2 separate regions of the Homo sapiens genome follow, and region 1 is linked to region 2. Evidence: fine-mapped expression QTL. Tissue or cell type: whole blood. Region 2 holds a variant in brackets; the other region holds the start of a gene. All regions are shown on one strand. Distances are between the middles of the regions.

Region 1 (8,000 bases), 47 kb after region 2:
TGTGCATGGGCCGGGCACGGTGGTTCACGCTCATAATCCCAGCTCTTTCAGAGGCCGAGGCAGGCAGATCACCTGAGGTCAAGAGTTCGACACCAGCCTGGCCAACATGGTGAAATTCCATCTGTACTAAAAATACAAAAATTAGCCAGGCCGTGGTGGTGTGTGCCTGTAATCCCAGCTACTCAGGAGACTGAAGCAGGAGAATCACTTGAACCCAGGAGGCAGAGGTTGCAGTGGGTCAAAATCATGCCACCACACTCCAGTCTGGGAGACAGAGCAAGACTCCATCTCAGAAACAAACTAACAAACAAAATTTTTATATCTACCTATAATTCGTATAAATTTAAAATACATGCATAAAATCATACCCTTTGCAAGCACACGTACTAACTAAAAGGAATATATTCAGCACATAGAAATGGTTGTCTAACGGAGGAGGGGGGAGTTAATAAACAGAGAGGATAAAAAGAAATAAATCAGTAGAGCTGGAGGAGGGTCTCCTCCAGGCTGCGATGAGAACATAGTGAGCAGAATTGCAGGCCTGCATGACCTCACCTTCTGTGAGGAGTCCGGCCTCCCAAGACGCTTTCCTGCCTAGGTGCCCGGCTCAGAGTGTCCCCTACAAGGCTACTGGAGGAGAACCCCAGACCGAGCCTCATTCAGGTGAGGGGGCTGCACACCGGAGGTGGGAGAGGTCTGTCCCTTCCCACCCTGTGACACTGGGTCCCACTTTCTCTCTAGGGGGTCTCGGTTTCCTCATTTGCAAACTGGAGCTCATAAGGTGGGCCAGAGAAGTTTCAGTGAAGTGAGGAATGGATCGTCCCTCTGCCAGGGCCCATGTGCTCTAGGTCACCCTGTCATCACAGGGACAGGGAGGTCAAGGACAGTCACTCCTGAGGCCAGTCCGGGCTGGGCTGACCACGTGGACTCTCATGCCCAGATTGGGGCCCCAATCTCCCTGAAGCTGGGGCTCCAGCTGTGACTCAGGGGTGGGCAGAAGGGGAGACAGAAGCGATAGGTTCCTCAGCCCCCAGTCCCACCTGAGGGCCCCTTTGTCACTGGATCTGATAAGAAACACCACCCCTGCAGCCCCCTCCCCTCACCTGACCAATGGCCACAGCCTGGCTGGGCCCAGCTCCCTGTATATAAGGGGACCCTGGGGGCTGAGCACTACCAAGGCCAGTCCTGAGCAGGCCCAACTCCAGTGCAGCCGCCCACCCTGCCGCCATGTCTCTGACCAAGACTTAGGGGACCATCATTGTGTCCATGTGGGCCAAGATCTCCACGCAGGCCGACACCATCGGCACCGAGACTCTGGAGAGGTGAGTGTCAGATGGGACTGCCAGAGGGACTGGGTGGGAGGCCAGGTATGTGAGTGGGGACAGTGGGGAGCGGGCAGTGGGGAGGGGACCGTGGGGAGGGGACAGTGAGTAGGAGACAGTGGGGAGAGGACAGTGGAGAGGGGACAGTGAGGAGGGGACCATGGGAAGGGGACCGTGGAGTGGGGACAGTGAGGAGGGGACCATAGGGAGGGGACAGTGGGGAGGGGACAGTGAGGAGGGGACCGTGGGGAGGGGACAGTGAGGAGGGGACCGTGGGGAGGAGACAGTGAGGAGGGGACCGTAGGGAGGGGACAGTGAGGAGGGGACCGTGGGGAGGGGACAGTGAGGAGGGGACCGTGGGGAGGGGACAGTGAGGAGGGGACCGTGGGAAGGAGACAGTGAGGAGGGGACCTTGGGGAGGGGACAGTGAGGAGGGGACCATGGGGAGGGGACAGTGAGGAGGGGACAATGGAGAGGGGACAGTGAGGAGGGGACTGTGGGGAGAGGACAGTGAGGAGGGGACCATGGGGAGGGCACAGTGGGGAGGGGAGAGTGAGGAAGGGACAGTGAGGAGGGGACTGTGGGGAGGGGACAGTGGAGACAGATAGCCTTCCCTCTCAGTGAGGAGGGCAGGGTAAGGAGGGAACGATTAGGAGTTGCACAACCATCTGGGCTCGCTGAGACCTGGGCAGGCACAGGCCCAGGTTCTGACAAGCAGAGGGTGAAAGGTTTCGTTCTAGGCCTGAAGGGCCTTACAGGGCAGCCAGGGCACTACAGCCTCTAAAGTCCCAGCATCTGGGATCAGGGCACTGTCCCAGCTTCAAATTCCCAGCATCTGATCCCCTGGGAGGGGCCAGGGAGCTTTTCCTTCCCTGGAACGCTGCTGGGAGGTCATGAGCCTGCAGAAGGGGTGGCGGGCAACCCAGTCTGGGGCTGGGAGGGAGGTCCTGTGGCCAGAGGAGACGGTGGAGGGGCTGGGGGCACCAGGCGTGCTGGAGGCGGAGGGCGGGAGATTTGGGGACCAGGCTGCACAGAACCCGTCGGAAGCAGGGCGATCAGCCGGGAGCTGCAGAGGCCTGGGGGGCCTCTAGCCCAGGGCAGCCTGGGAGGGGCAGCTGCCTGGGCACCCGGGCCCCGCGAGGAGGGGCTGGGGCCTGCTGCGGGGTCGCAGATGTGTCCCGGTGCTCGGAGAGGGCCGCAGGGCGCGTGGGCCGTGGCGGGAGGCCGCGCTGCTGGGAGCTCACGGCCCCCGCCCCCCGTCCCAGGCTCTTCCTCAGCCACCCGCAGACCAAGACCTACTTCCCGCACTTCGACCTGCACCCGGGGTCCGCGCAGTTGCGCGCGCACGGCTCCAAGGTGGTGGCCGCCGTGGGCGACGCGGTGAAGAGCATCGACGACATCGGCGGCGCCCTGTCCAAGCTGAGCGAGCTGCACGCCTACATCCTGCGCGTGGACCCGGTCAACTTCAAGGTGCGCGGGGCGCGGTGCGGGCGGGGCGGGGCGGGGCCGCGGGGCGGGCGGGGCCGCGGGGCGGGGTCGCGGGGCGGGGCGGGGTGGGGTCGCGGGGCGGGGCGGGGTCGCGGGGCGGGGCGGGGCGGGGCGGGGCGGGCGGGGCGGCCGGGGCCCGGCGGGGCGGGGCGGGGCGGGGAGGGGCTGGGCGGGGCGGGGCGCGGGGCGGGGCGGGCCGGGCCGGGGCGGGGTCGCGGGGCGGGGTCGCGGGGCGGGGCGCGGGGCGGGGCGGGGCGGGGTGGGGTCGCGGGGCGGGGCCCGGGCTAGGCCCCGCCCCCGCACTGAGCCGCCCCCGCCCCCAGCTCCTGTCCCACTGCCTGCTGGTCACCCTGGCCGCGCGCTTCCCCGCCGACTTCACGGCCGAGGCCCACGCCGCCTGGGCCAAGTTCCTATCGGTCGTATCCTCTGTCCTGACCGAGAAGTACCGCTGAGCGCCGCCTCCGGGACCCCCAGGACAGGCTGCGGCCCCTCCCCTGCCCTTCACCCTCCCACAGTTCCTGCCCTGACTCCAATAAATGGATGAGGACGGAGCGATCTGGGCTCTGTGTTCTCAGTATTGGAGGGAAGGAGGGGAGAAGCTGAGTGATGGGTCCGGGGGCTTCGCAGGAACTCGGTCGTCCCCACTGTCGTCGCGGCCTGGGGTTCACTTGGGGGGCGCCTTGGGGAGGTTCTAGCCCCTGAGCACCGGAGCTGCGGCCCGGGTGGAGCGGAGCAGTCCCGGGCCGGCCCGCGGCGTCTCCTGGGGTCCTTGAGTCGGACGGGCGTTTGTGCGTCTCCCGGCTTCCCATATCGCACAAAGATTGTCACTTCACTAAGCGTATTGGAAGCGTGTCGGGGCTCAGGGAACTTTTCCACAAAGCCTGACGTCCGAATCCCGGGACTCTGGCAGCTACGGGGGTCCCTGAGGCCGGTCCCTCCCCGACTCCTAAGAGAGTAGGGGGTTTCCTGCCCGGTGTTCTCTCTCCGGTTCCTCCCATGTGCTCCCTCCTGGCAGAGCAGTAACTTTACCCGAGGGGAGTAAACAGATGCCCCTAAAGTCTGCAGTAAAGGTGCCCACGCGCAACGGCGTGGGTCAATGCCAGAAACCCTGGGATCCCGGAGGTCGAGGCCTCCACACAGACGGGAACCCGGGCTGGTTACGTTCCCCGGCGCAGGCCGAGGGTCCCCGCGTTCCCGCCGCGCTCGGGCCGATAAGGACGGGCGGGGTGCCCGGAGGCTCTATAAGGAGGCCAGGGCGGCGGGCGCGGCCCCCAGAGCACGTCAGGCGGCGCCATGCTCAGCGCCCAGGAGCGCGCCCAAATCGCGCAGGTCTGGGACCTGATTGCGGGCCACGAGGCGCAATTCGGGGCGGAGCTGCTGCTCAGGTCGGTAGAGGCGGGGTCTCCGGGAGCTCAGGGAGGTGGAGATGAGGGTTTTGGGCGCGTGGGCCGCCAACGCCATCCAAGGTCCTTCGGGTGCGGATCCCCGGGCTCTGGGCGGTGTGGGCGCTAGTGAAGCCCCACGCAGCCGCCCTCCTCCCCGGTCACTGACCTGGTCCTGCAGGCTCTTCACGGTGTACCCCAGCACCAAGGTCTACTTCCCGCACCTGAGCGCCTGCCAGGACGCGACGCAGCTGCTGAGCCACGGGCAGCGCATGCTGGCGGCTGTGGGCGCGGCGGTGCAGCACGTGGACAACCTGCGCGCCGCGCTGAGCCCGCTGGCGGACCTGCACGCGCTCGTGCTGCGCGTGGACCCAGCCAACTTTCCGGTGAGGCCTTTCCGGCCGGGGCAATGGTGCAGCGCGCAGCCGGGGTGGGGGGGCTCTGGGGGTCCCTAGCGGGGCAGACCCCGTCTCACCGGCCCCTTCTCCTGCAGCTGCTAATCCAGTGTTTCCACGTCGTGCTGGCCTCCCACCTGCAGGACGAGTTCACCGTGCAAATGCAAGCGGCGTGGGACAAGTTCCTGACTGGTGTGGCCGTGGTGCTGACCGAAAAATACCGCTGAGCCCTGTGCTGCGCAGGCCTTGGTCTGTGCCTGTCAATAAACAGAGGCCCGAACCATCTGCCCCTGCCTGTGTGGTCTTTGGGGAGCTAGCAAAGCGAGGTCACTATTGTTGGCCAGTGAAGCTCAGGGACCTAAAAGGAGCCTCCTAGAACTCTCAAATGCGCCCCACCCCCGGAGGTTTGTCCTCCCATGGCGAGGAGTGCGATGGGGCAGAGGGAGCACTGTGATGTGGCGGGGGTAGGGAGGGTGGCCTTCGACTTCAACCCTTGAATCGGGCTTCCAACCATACTGTTCGCAAAGCACTTCCCCATTCACGCATTTATTCATTCATTCTCCCTCCATCCCCACTTCCTGCTGGGACCTGTAGATGCTAATCCTGGCCCTTTTTGCAGAGAGATGCAGAAACTGAGGTCCCAGAGCCAAATGTGCAACCTAATTCGTTGGCCCAGAGCAGAGGGCTCCGCAGACCTGTTCCTTTCCCCTTCCTTCCCCCATGGACACTTCCTCAGTGGCAAACCTGCGCTAGCCTGGTTAGCCCTCCCTGTGACCCTGCAGCCCTGGGGATGAGGTCGGGAGGAAGTCCTCAGTGGCCACAATTTGGCAGACAGAGCAGGTTTAGTCTTCCAGCCTGCTCAATGACAAGCTGTGCGACCCTGGGCGTGTCCCAGAGCTCTCAGGCCTTTACCTATCGAATAGAAAAACAACGTCCAACTCACGAGATTTTTGAAATAATTTTTGAAATCATAACACAGGGTGGGTGCCTGCAGGGTCGTTGCCACCCCACCCCTCCACCCAGCCCCAGCTGCCGTGTCTCAATCTCTGCAGGTGCCCAGGCCAAGGCACTCCCTTCCCCAGGTTCCCTCTTCTCCCTCCCCAGGACTGGGAAGGGAATCTTAGGGCTCCACCCCAGGCTTTTCAGACAAAGAATAGGGGCTGAGGAAAGAGTGGGACCTTGGAGGTCTCCAAACCCTGAATAGGGTTGGCTCTGGGTTGGCCATCCTGGGTCTGTGTGGGGAGCACTGGACCAGGCCTGGCACCCAGGTCTGACCTGGCAGTCAGCAACGAGGTCTGAAGAGAGCTGCTGGAAGTGGAGCCCTGACTGTGAGTCGGCCAAACTCCCCCCAGCAGTCAGTGCCAGTGACCTGTTGCCCTGCACTGCCTGGGACCCCAGCCCGGTAGTTTGGAGAACTTGGCCCCACGTTATCTACATCCCCCAACTGTTTTTTTGTTTTTGGGGGTTTTTTTTTTTTTTGCTTTGTTTTTGTTTTTGAGATAGGCCCTTGCTCTGACACCCCGGCTGGAGTGCAGTGGCACAGTTTTGGCTCACTGCAGCCTCAACCTCCTGGGTTCAAGCGATTCTCCTGCCTCTGTCTCCCGTGTAGCTGGGATTACAGGCATGGGCCGCCATTCCTGGCTAATTTTTGTATTTTTAATAGAGACACAGTTTCACCATGTTGATCAGGCTGGTCTCAAACTCCTGACCTCAAGTGATCTGCCCTCCTCGGTCTCCCAAAGTGCTGGGATGACAGGCGTGAGCCACCACACCCAGCCCCCGCAACTGTTTACATGGATAATTAACAGCTTTTTGTCCCAGGCAGAGTTTGGTGTGAAAGCAGCTTATGTTTCACTTTGGAAAAACTGTGCTCTTCTCCCCATCCAGGAAGCTGCCTGGGTCTGGGCCATATGTGGATACCTTATGGGTATAAGCTGCTCAGGACCCTGTGTGGAAGCTCAGGACAATGCCAGCGGGAAGGCTACCATGTGGAGAGCTGGTCTCTGTTTGGGCAGGACTAAGAGACGCAGGGCAGCCTTGGGCAACCTGTCTACTCTCACTCACTCCTCCTCCCCTTTCCTGTGCCAGGCACCTCCTGGCAACTTGCCAGCCAATGACCCTGCATCCCAGGCATAAGAGCTCCTACTCTCCCCCACCTTTCACTTTTGAGCTTACACAGACTCAGAAATAAGCTGCCGTGGTGCTGTCTCCTGAGGACAAGGCTAACACCAAGGCGGTCTGGGAGAAAGTTGGCAACCACACTGCTGGCTATGCCACGGAGGCCCTGGAGAGGCAAGAACCCTCCTCTCCCTGCTCACACCTTGGGTCCAACGCCCACTCCAGGGCTCCACTGGCCACCCCTAACTATTCTTACCCTGGACCCAGCCCCCAGCCCCTCACTCTTTGCTTCCCCCTGAAGCATGTTCCTGACCTTCCTCTCACTTGGCCCTGAGTTATGGCTCAGCCCAGATCAAGAAACAATGCAAGTAGGTGGCCGACACGCTGACCAATGCCGTGGTCCACTTAGATGACATGCCCAATGATGTGTCTGAGCTGAGGAAGCTGCATGTCCACGAGCTGTGGGTGGACCCAGGCAACATCAGGGAGAGCTTTGGGCTGGGAGGAATCTAGGGTGTGGGGGCAGCTGGCCTTCCTCATAGGACAGACCCTCCCACGCGTTCAGGGAGGTGGAGCACAGGTGGCAGTAGTATCTGCATCCCCTGACTCTCTCTCCACAGTTCCTGGGTAAATGCCTGCTGGTGACCTAGGCCTGCCACACCCTTCCCAGTTTACCCATGTGGTGCCTCCATGGACAAATTATTTGCTTTTGTGAGTGCTGTGTTGACCTAAAAACACCATTAAGCTAGAGCATTGGTGGTCATGCCCCCTGCCTGCTGGGCCTCCCACCAGGCCCTCCTCCCCTCCCTGCCCCAGCACTTCCTGATCTTTGAATGAAGTCCGAGTAGGCAGCAGCCTGTGTGTGCCTGGGTTCTCTCTGTCCCGGAATGTGCCAACAGTGGAGGTGTTTACCTGTCTCAGACCAAGGACCTCTCTGCAGCTGCATGGGGCTGGGGAGGGAGAACTGCAGGGAGTATGGGAGGGGAAGCTGAGGTGGGCCTGCTCAAGAGAAGGTGCTGAACCATCCCCTGTCCTGAGAGGTGCCAGGCCTGCAGGCAGTGGCTCAGAAGCTGGGGAGGAGAGAGGCATCCAGGGTTCTACTCAGGGAGTCCCAGCATCGCCACCCTCCTTTGAAATCTCCCTGGTTGAACCCAGTTAACATACGCTCTCCATCAAAACAAAACGAAACAAAACAAACTAGCAAAATAGGCTGTCCCCAATGCAAGTGCAGGTGCCAGAACATTTCTCTCATTCTCACCCCTTCCTGCCAGAGGGTAGGTGGCTGGAGTGAGGGT
Region 2 (8,000 bases):
CCTCCCAGGTAGCTGGGACTACAGGCGCACATCATCATGCCTGGCTAATTTTTGTATTTTTTGTAGAGATGGGGTTTCGCTATGTTGCCCAGGCTGGTGTCAAACTCCTGGGCTCAAGTGATCCACCCACCTTGGCCTCCCGAAGTGCTAGGAATACAGGAGTGAGCCACTGTGCCTGGACAAAAGTGTATATTTTAAAAAGAAAGAATATATATTTAAAATGACAAAAGTGTATATTTTAAAAAGAAAGAATATATATTTAAAATGACAAAAGTATATATTTTAAAAAGAAAGACTTGTCCACCCAAAAAATACAAACTCTTTACATTATCAAAATTTCTCCTACTCGTCAATATCACGGCCAGCTGAAGTCCTAGACTATCTTGTTTCCTGTTGCTTTTTTTTTTTTGAGCTGGAGTTTCGCTCTTGTTGCCCAGATTGGAGTGCAATGGTGCGATCTCTGCTCACTGCAACCTCCGCCTCCCGGATTCAACCGATTCTACTGCCTCAGCCTCCTGAGTAGCTGGAATTACAGGTGTCCACCACCACACCTGGCTAATTTTGTATTTTTTAGTAGAGACGGGGTATCTCCATGCTGGTCAGCCTGCTCTCAAACTCCTGATCTCAGGTGATCCGCCCGCTTCAGCCTCCCAAAGTGCTGGTATTACAGGCGTAAGCATTTGTGCTCGGCTCCGGTTGCTTTTACCTGTCCGTAATCAATCTATACTTCTCCAGGTTCTGGTCTGATCTCCATTTCTCACCCTTGATGGCAAGAGGATGGGCCAGTGTATAATAATCACCACATTGTTTAATCACTCCCCAACTACTACACACTATGATTATCTCCAGTTTAATTATTGTTATAAAAATCTTTATTCTTGCTGAGAACAAGCCTGGGGGAAATCTTTACGCAGTTGTAAAAGTTGCTTGTTTTTCTTGATAATACTCCTAACAGTGGGACTGCTAGATCTAAGGGCATCATATGCTATGCTGTCAAACACTACTCCCCGAGGTGAGGGCCTGCCTACAGCATCCTGGAAACACTATTCCCCGAGGTGAGGGCCTGCTTACAGCATCCTGCAAACACTGTTCCCCGAGGTGAGGGCCTGCCTACAGCATCCTGGGTGGGGCTGTGGCTGCGTTTCATCAACTGTCCCACAGGGGTTATCGGTGTTGACAGGTGGACAACATTCGTCATGGATTTTGTTTACTCCTTTGCTTGTTTTTTTACTTAATTCATTTTTCTTTGTGGCGCTTTATATTATGTAATTATGTAAGAAATACAAAGATGCTATGAAAATGCAAATACTACAAAAGTGTATCAAGCAGAAAGTGAAGAACTTCTCCCAGAACCCTGTACCCCAGGAGCCATTAACAAATCATTTTGTTTTAATTTGTAGTTCCTTATTTATCAACAAGGCAGGCCTGTCTTAAAAATTAAGCTCCAGCTGGGCATAGTGGCTCACACCTGGAATCCCAGCACTTTGGGTGGCCAAGGAGGGAAGACCATTTGAGACCAGGAGTTCAAGATCAGCCAGGGCAATAAGGTGAAAACTCATCTCTACAAAAAATACAAAAATTAGCAGGGGCAGGGCACAGTGGCTCACGCCTGTAATCCCAGCAGTCTGGGAGGCCAAGGTGGGTGGATCACCTAAGGTCACGAGTTCAAGACCAGCATGGCCAACATGGCGAGACCCCCCCCCCCCACCGATCTCTACTAAAAATACAAAAATTAGCTGGGCGTGGTGGCGCACACCTGTAATCCCAGCTACTCGGGAGGCTGAGGCAGGAGACTCACTTGAGCTTGGGAGGCAGGGGTTGCATTGAGCCAAGATTGCGCTACTACACTCCAGCCTGGGTGACACAGCGAGATTCTGTCTCAAAAAAAAAAAAGAGAATAACTGCTAATGGGTATGGGGTTTCCTTCTGGGGTGGTGAAAGTGTTCTGGATCTAGATAGTGGTGATGGTTATACAACATGAATGTACCAGATGCCACTGAAGCATAGACTTCAAAATGACAAATAGTGTTATGTGTATTTTACCAAAACAAAAAGGGGTAAACAATGAAGTGCAGTCTGCCTGCACCCCAGGAGGGGCCAGCCCGCTGCAGTCCAAGCTCCGAGTCAATGACACGCTCGTTGGAAAAAAAGAGCTGCTTCTCCACTGGCCCCACTCCCTGATCTTAACCATTTATATAAACACTCACCCTCAGTGCAAACACCACATTAAAAAGAATCATAGTAGGTGCTTCCCTCTTCGGGGAAGGATCTGTTTTGGAGATCTGTAAAAGATGCATAATTCTAATTAATTGAGACGACTTTCTAAGGAAAGCTGTTTAGAGCTATTCTACTTCAGGCATGGCAAAAGTCCCCAGAATACAGCACCAAGGTCTTGGAAAAGCAATGAATGCCTTTGCTCTGGAGGCGTGCCTACTGCATGGGCAAAGTCACAACTATGACAAGAGTGGGAAGGTCAGTGCTCTGACCCCCTCGCCCCCCCGCTAACAGAAGTGAGCTGACAATGCCCACAGGGGACGAGATGGAGAGGGGCATAAATGGGTGGAGGACCCAGACCCACACCCCCACTGCCTTCCCGTGCCCGCCTGCATCCACCAGGCTGTATCTGCTAAGTATGACGCATACTCAGAACAATTGAGGGACAGGACGATGTTCAGGGACAGCCAAGCCCTGAGCAGGGCCCAGGTGAGGCAGGCCAGCAAGTCCTAATTTCTGTGCTCCCGGTTCTGGCATCCAGCCAGCTTCACAAGGACCAGGGCGCTCAAGGGAAGCATTCCAAGGGGCACGGGGGAACTCTTCAAAGCCAACTACAAGTTCTGCCACCAGGGGGAGTTGGGGCCCCAGGCTGCCCTGGCACCCATCCCCTACCCCTGACTGCCACTCCTGTCTACAGGGTGTGACCGCGGGCAGGCTGCCAACTCTCCCCTTCATTGCCTACAGGTAGGGGACTGTGCCCCAGCTGTGGAGGCTGTGATGAGAAGGGAGGGTGCGGTACAGGGGACCAGGCTCATCAACCGCCTCAGAAACTCCTTCCATGGAGGTTCACGAATAACACCACAGAACCTCCCAGAATTGCTGGATCTGTATAAATGTAGCTAAATCCTACGTTACTGTGTTCGACCCTTCAGAATCTTAGTAATGCCATCACTGATCCTGCCTGTATGCAGAGAGCTGACTGGCAGGCTCTGGTGTACAAGTTCCCTTCATCCTGCTAACAAGATGAGTTCCTCAGTGCTATGACACCTATTCATCAAGAGAACATATAGAGAGGGTTTAGCAGAAAAATAAGTGCTAAATAATACTAATATTAGCTACTAGAGTGTCTTGTAATAAATAAGAGGAAATGCTTGCACCACACTGTAGAAAATTCAAGGGTTTCACGATGCTAGTTAACTCACTATCTTGGCCTCCCCTGGAAACAGACATCCTACATATGAAGGGGAGGGCCACAGTCAGTAGAGACCTAGAATGCAGACTGTAAAAGCTAGGGACAGGGACTGAAGCACCTGTCTTCAGGGGCAAGAACACCTGTCTCTTTTTCTACTGGACTCTCTGGGTTTATGAAGATGCACAGTTCATACCAAGTGTCTAATCAGGTCTCCTGCCCAGTACCTTCACCAGAGCTGGTGTCAGCCTCAGTTCTGAGCCCCCCAGAGCCAGAATGGACCAGGCCTGCCGGCCCAGGGAGAGCCACATCTGCCCAGAGGGTCTGTGCATGCCCAGGGAGAACCCCACCTGCCCAAGGACAGACGCATCTGCCCAGGGGAAGCCACACCTGCCCAGGGGGAGCCACACCTTCCCAGAGGGTCTGTACCTGCCCAGGGGAAGCCACATCTGCCCAGGGGAAGCCAAATCTACCCAGGGGGAGCCCCACCTGCCCAAGGAGAGCCACACCTGCCCAGGGGAAGCCACACCTGCCCAAGGAGAGCCACACCTGCCCAAGGAGAGCCACACCTGCCCAAGGAGAGCCACATCTGCCCAGGGAGAGCCCCACCTGCCCAGGGAGAGCCATACCTGCCCCAGAGCATGCTGTAGCAGTGTTGGGTGCCCAACAAATCGCACATTATCAATCTTCAGTTCAAATTTTTGGCCACACATTTCAGACTTGGTTGCCAAAATTGTTGCCAGAATAACATCTGAAAACCTTAAAATTTAAGAGAGGTAGAATAAAAATAAGTTAACAAAATACCACAGCACCATGCCCTGCTGGCCCCAGAGCGGAAGGGTCTCAGTAAACTGCACCTTCATGGAGTTGCTCTGCCCCGACTGCTGGTGGAAGCTACTAACAGTTGCCCTTCTGTAGCAATCCCAGAGGTTATGGATGTAAGATCACCAGAATTACAAGGTAAAAGGCATGAGAAGCACAGACTGAAGGCACATGCTGTCATTTTTTGGCATGCTCTATTAAATTCAGGAGAGAAACAGTTGCAGTTTGCTTTCAAAGGGAGGATCAGCTGGAGCCGGCACTGCCCTGCGGAGCTGCTCTTTAAAGTTCACAGGCAGAGGGGCCTCTCCCAGTTACACTCAGGTTTGCTGTGCTGCACCTTCAACTCCCAGGACCCAGGCCCTTCACCCACAGAGCGGCCCTTCACCCAAAGAGCCGCGTGGAGGGCAAGGGGACAGTGCACAGGGATGCGTGCAGAGCGCTGACTTCCTTCCTCATAGCATGGCTGCCCATCCGTTCCCTTATCCCAAACACTTAAACTTTCCGGTTTTTATCAGGGAAGAAGCTTTGTGCAAGATGTGCAAGCCCACTGTGATCACAGCTATTTCCAAATGGCAGAAATACCAGGTTGCACACAACTGGGTGCCACGGAGAAGTGGGTGCAGCTGTGGTGTGGGAGGGAGGGCATCCCTTTTCCCCTTTTCAAGGTCATCTGTGCCCTTCTGTCTCCTTACTGGCAATGCTGATGCCTCCTGCCTGGGGAGATCTGGATAAGGGAGTGTCACCTGCAGGGGTGCTGT[G/C]GGTGGTGCTGACTCTTATCTCAGAGTCCAGGGCTCTGAGGGCCTCCGCTCTAGAAACACAAATGTACTACCTCTGATCTGGACCCAGAAGAGAGAGAAGTCCCATACATATCTCTCCACCCAGGAAAAATATATCTAATATCTAGGTCAGGAGGGTGCACTCTCTTGGGGAAGCTCTAGCCTCCGCAGGGCCATACTCTGCCCCTGGGCAGGGAGACCCCTAAGGTCCTAGAAGAGACCACTGAGGACAGACATTCTAGGGTGCAAACCTGGTCATGCTTCTTCCCCAGAGGCCCTCTTGGTGAAGGGATGGGAGAGACTGACATAACTCCTCCATGTTGTGATGAAAAAGGAAGGCCTGCTTTGAACTGCACTGTAGCTCAGCTCTGTAATAGCAAATGGCAAGTAGCTACATGATTCTTTCCAAGTCTATCATGGGCTGTGGGGCTCAGACTGTTTTCCAGCCTTCCTCCTGAACTGGCACGACCCTCTAACCATCCGAAGTCACCCTAGGCTCACAAACAAACCACATACGAGGGTTTGGTCAAACCTATTTGTGCCATTTGGAAATAGCCTCTCAACCCAGTCAGGTTGCAGTTGGACCTTCTGAAATCAATCTTGTTAGAGTTATCCTGGGAAACGCAGGACCCACAGCCAAGTCCTCAGCAGCCCACTGCAGGTCTCTCCTGCAGAGATGGAGGATTCAAGTGCCTTACACCACAGGCATAATATGCTTTCTTCAAAAACCCTAAATGGCTCACTCTGTTCTATAACTCCCATCTGTGGGACATGGTAATGTTGAAGGAGGGTTTGAGGTATTAAAACGCCACCAAACACTTCTGCTCTAGCAACTGACCCAGGGCCAACGCCTCACATCCTATCTAAACAGTGCCCCTCCACTCTGCCACCCAGTGACTCAGGGGACACAGAGGTAACAGAAAAATAACCACCACCACTCCAGAAAGGTCCCTTGCTCTGACAGCCCAAAATCTCCACTAAAAACTGCTGCTCTGTCATAAAGAGTCACAGCCATGTCTCAGCCTCAGCCCTCAGGCACCAGTCCAGGGACCAAATTTAGTTTGGCTGTGAGATGGTCCCTGGGATTCTCAGAGGCAAGCAGTGGTAGCCCAGTTCGCGTTTATAAATACCTAAACTTCAAGGCGCCCTCACAACAGCCAAATAAAAGGCTCTTTCCCTGCTAGAGGCCAGGGTCTGCAGAGACGGCCAACTGGAAATCTGTGAGCTGAAGTAAAAAGGCACACTGGGCCAGGCGTGGTGGCTCACACCTGTCATCCCAGCACTTTGGGAGGCTGAAGTGGGTGGATCACCCGAGGTCAGGAGTTCGAGACCAGCATGGCCAACATAATGAAACCCCCGTCTCTACTAAAAATACAAAAATTAGCCGGGCGCAGTGAAGCCTGTAGTCCCAGCTAGTCGGGAGGCTGAGGCAGGAGAATCGCTTGAACCTGGGCGGCAGAGGTTGCAGTGAGCGGAGATCGTGCCACTGCACTCCAGCCTGGGTGACAGAGCGAAACTCCGTCTCAAAAAAAAAAACAGTCACATTGACTTAGTGGCTGTTCATGGAGCCCTCTGAGGCAGCCAGCAGGGTGGTAGTTAGCCATTGTTTATCTGAGCAAATCTGGCCCACAGAGAAATCTACTCCCCACACCTTAATATTACAAACATATAATGACAAAACGCTTTTTTTTCTTTTTGAGACGAAGTCTTGCTCTTGTCCCCCAGGCTGGAGTGCAATGACGTAATCTCGGCTCACTGCAACCTCCGCCTCCCGAGTTCAAGCAATTCTCCTGCCTCAGCCTCCCGAGTAGCTGCGATTAGAGGCACCCGCCACCACGCCCAGCTAATTTTTGTATTTTTAGTAGAGACGGGGTTTCACCATGTTGGTCAGGCTGGTCTCGAACTCCTGACCTCAGGTGATCCGCCCGCCTCGGCCTCCCAAAGTGCTGGGATGACAGGCGTGAGCCACCACGCCCGGCCCCATGACAAAACAATTGAGCGGCTTTTTCTTTTCCCCCTTGAGATGGAGTCTTGCTCTGTCGCCCAGGCTGGAGTGTAATGGCGCAATCTCGGCTCACTGAAACCTCCGCCTCTTGGGTTCAAGCGATTCTACTGCCTCAGCCTCCCAAATATCTGGGATTACAGGCGCGTGCCACCAAGCCCGGCTAATTTTTCATATTTTTTAGTAGAGACAAGGTTTCACCACGTTGGCCAGGCTGGTCTCGACCTCCTGACCTCATGATCTGCCCACCTCGGCCTCCCAAAGTGCTGGGATGACAGGCATGAGCCACTGCACCCATCTGGCTTTATACTTTATATAGTCTGTCTGGTAATGTAATACACATAAAGACAGAGTTATATTCATGAGATTGGGGGTGGGGCAAAACTTATAAACAGCAAACTGAACCATAAACAAGTGTTGTTTTGTTTTATTGGCTTCCAACATTTATGAAAATCCTTTTCCCTCATTTTGATGGTGAAAGGCCTAATAAATGTACTGCAGCACAATAAAACATCTGTTACAAAAACTGAAGATTCCTGGAATAACTTGGAAATTCAAGAAAAACACATTTAGGAAGATGAACCAGCCCAGCCAGAAAACAGGCCAGGACCTTCTATCACTGCCGAGCTATTCTGGAGTAGGGTTTGCTCTCTAGCTTGGACAAAAAAAGGGATGGAAAGACATCCTGGAAGGGAGCTCAGTTCTGCTCCCCCCACCCACCTAAAGGGATGGAAAGACATCCTGGAGGGGAGCTCAACTCTGCTCGCCCCACCCACCTCCTTGCTGGAAGCTCACAGACACTGTGTGTACCTCCAAGGCCCAGAGGAGATGCACTGTCAAGGGGAATGGAAGAGTCGCCCGTCATCCGTGCCCTCCTGGACAAGCACCATATCAATTCCATGAGAACATTTCTGCCTCTATTAAGCACACTCAATAGCATCTAGGCCTGAGCATCACACTTAATGCCCAACCCTTGGGAGAGGCCCCCACAAAACCC

What was found. PIP is the estimated chance that this variant, and not a neighbour inherited with it, causes the effect.
Region 1: it holds the start of HBM, and the variant in region 2 is fine-mapped to the expression of HBM in whole blood (INTERVAL, PIP 0.98).

What each region holds. Positions count from the first base shown.
Region 1 is chr16:161,895-169,894 of GRCh38, forward strand. It overlaps HBM (hemoglobin subunit mu), which reads left to right and starts at 4,084. Exons shown (of 3, transcript NM_001003938.4): 1 at 4,084-4,195; 2 at 4,374-4,578; 3 at 4,686-4,870. The coding sequence starts at 4,104. The coding sequence ends at 4,814. LOC107983982 (a long non-coding RNA gene) reads left to right here. Exons shown (of 3, transcript XR_001752047.1): 2 at 599-663; 3 at 742-1,027. It also overlaps the pseudogene HBZP1 and the pseudogene HBAP1. RefSeq lists an enhancer at 1,891-2,391.
Region 2 is chr16:115,094-123,093 of GRCh38, forward strand. NPRL3 (NPR3 like, GATOR1 complex subunit) reads right to left here. Exons shown (of 14, transcript NM_001077350.3): 4 at 4,033-4,162; 5 at 2,208-2,282. Among named protein-coding and RNA genes, the nearest start is that of NPRL3, 20 kb to the right of the region's middle. RefSeq lists an enhancer at 1-966. The variant G/C (reference allele first, on the strand shown) is at 4,984.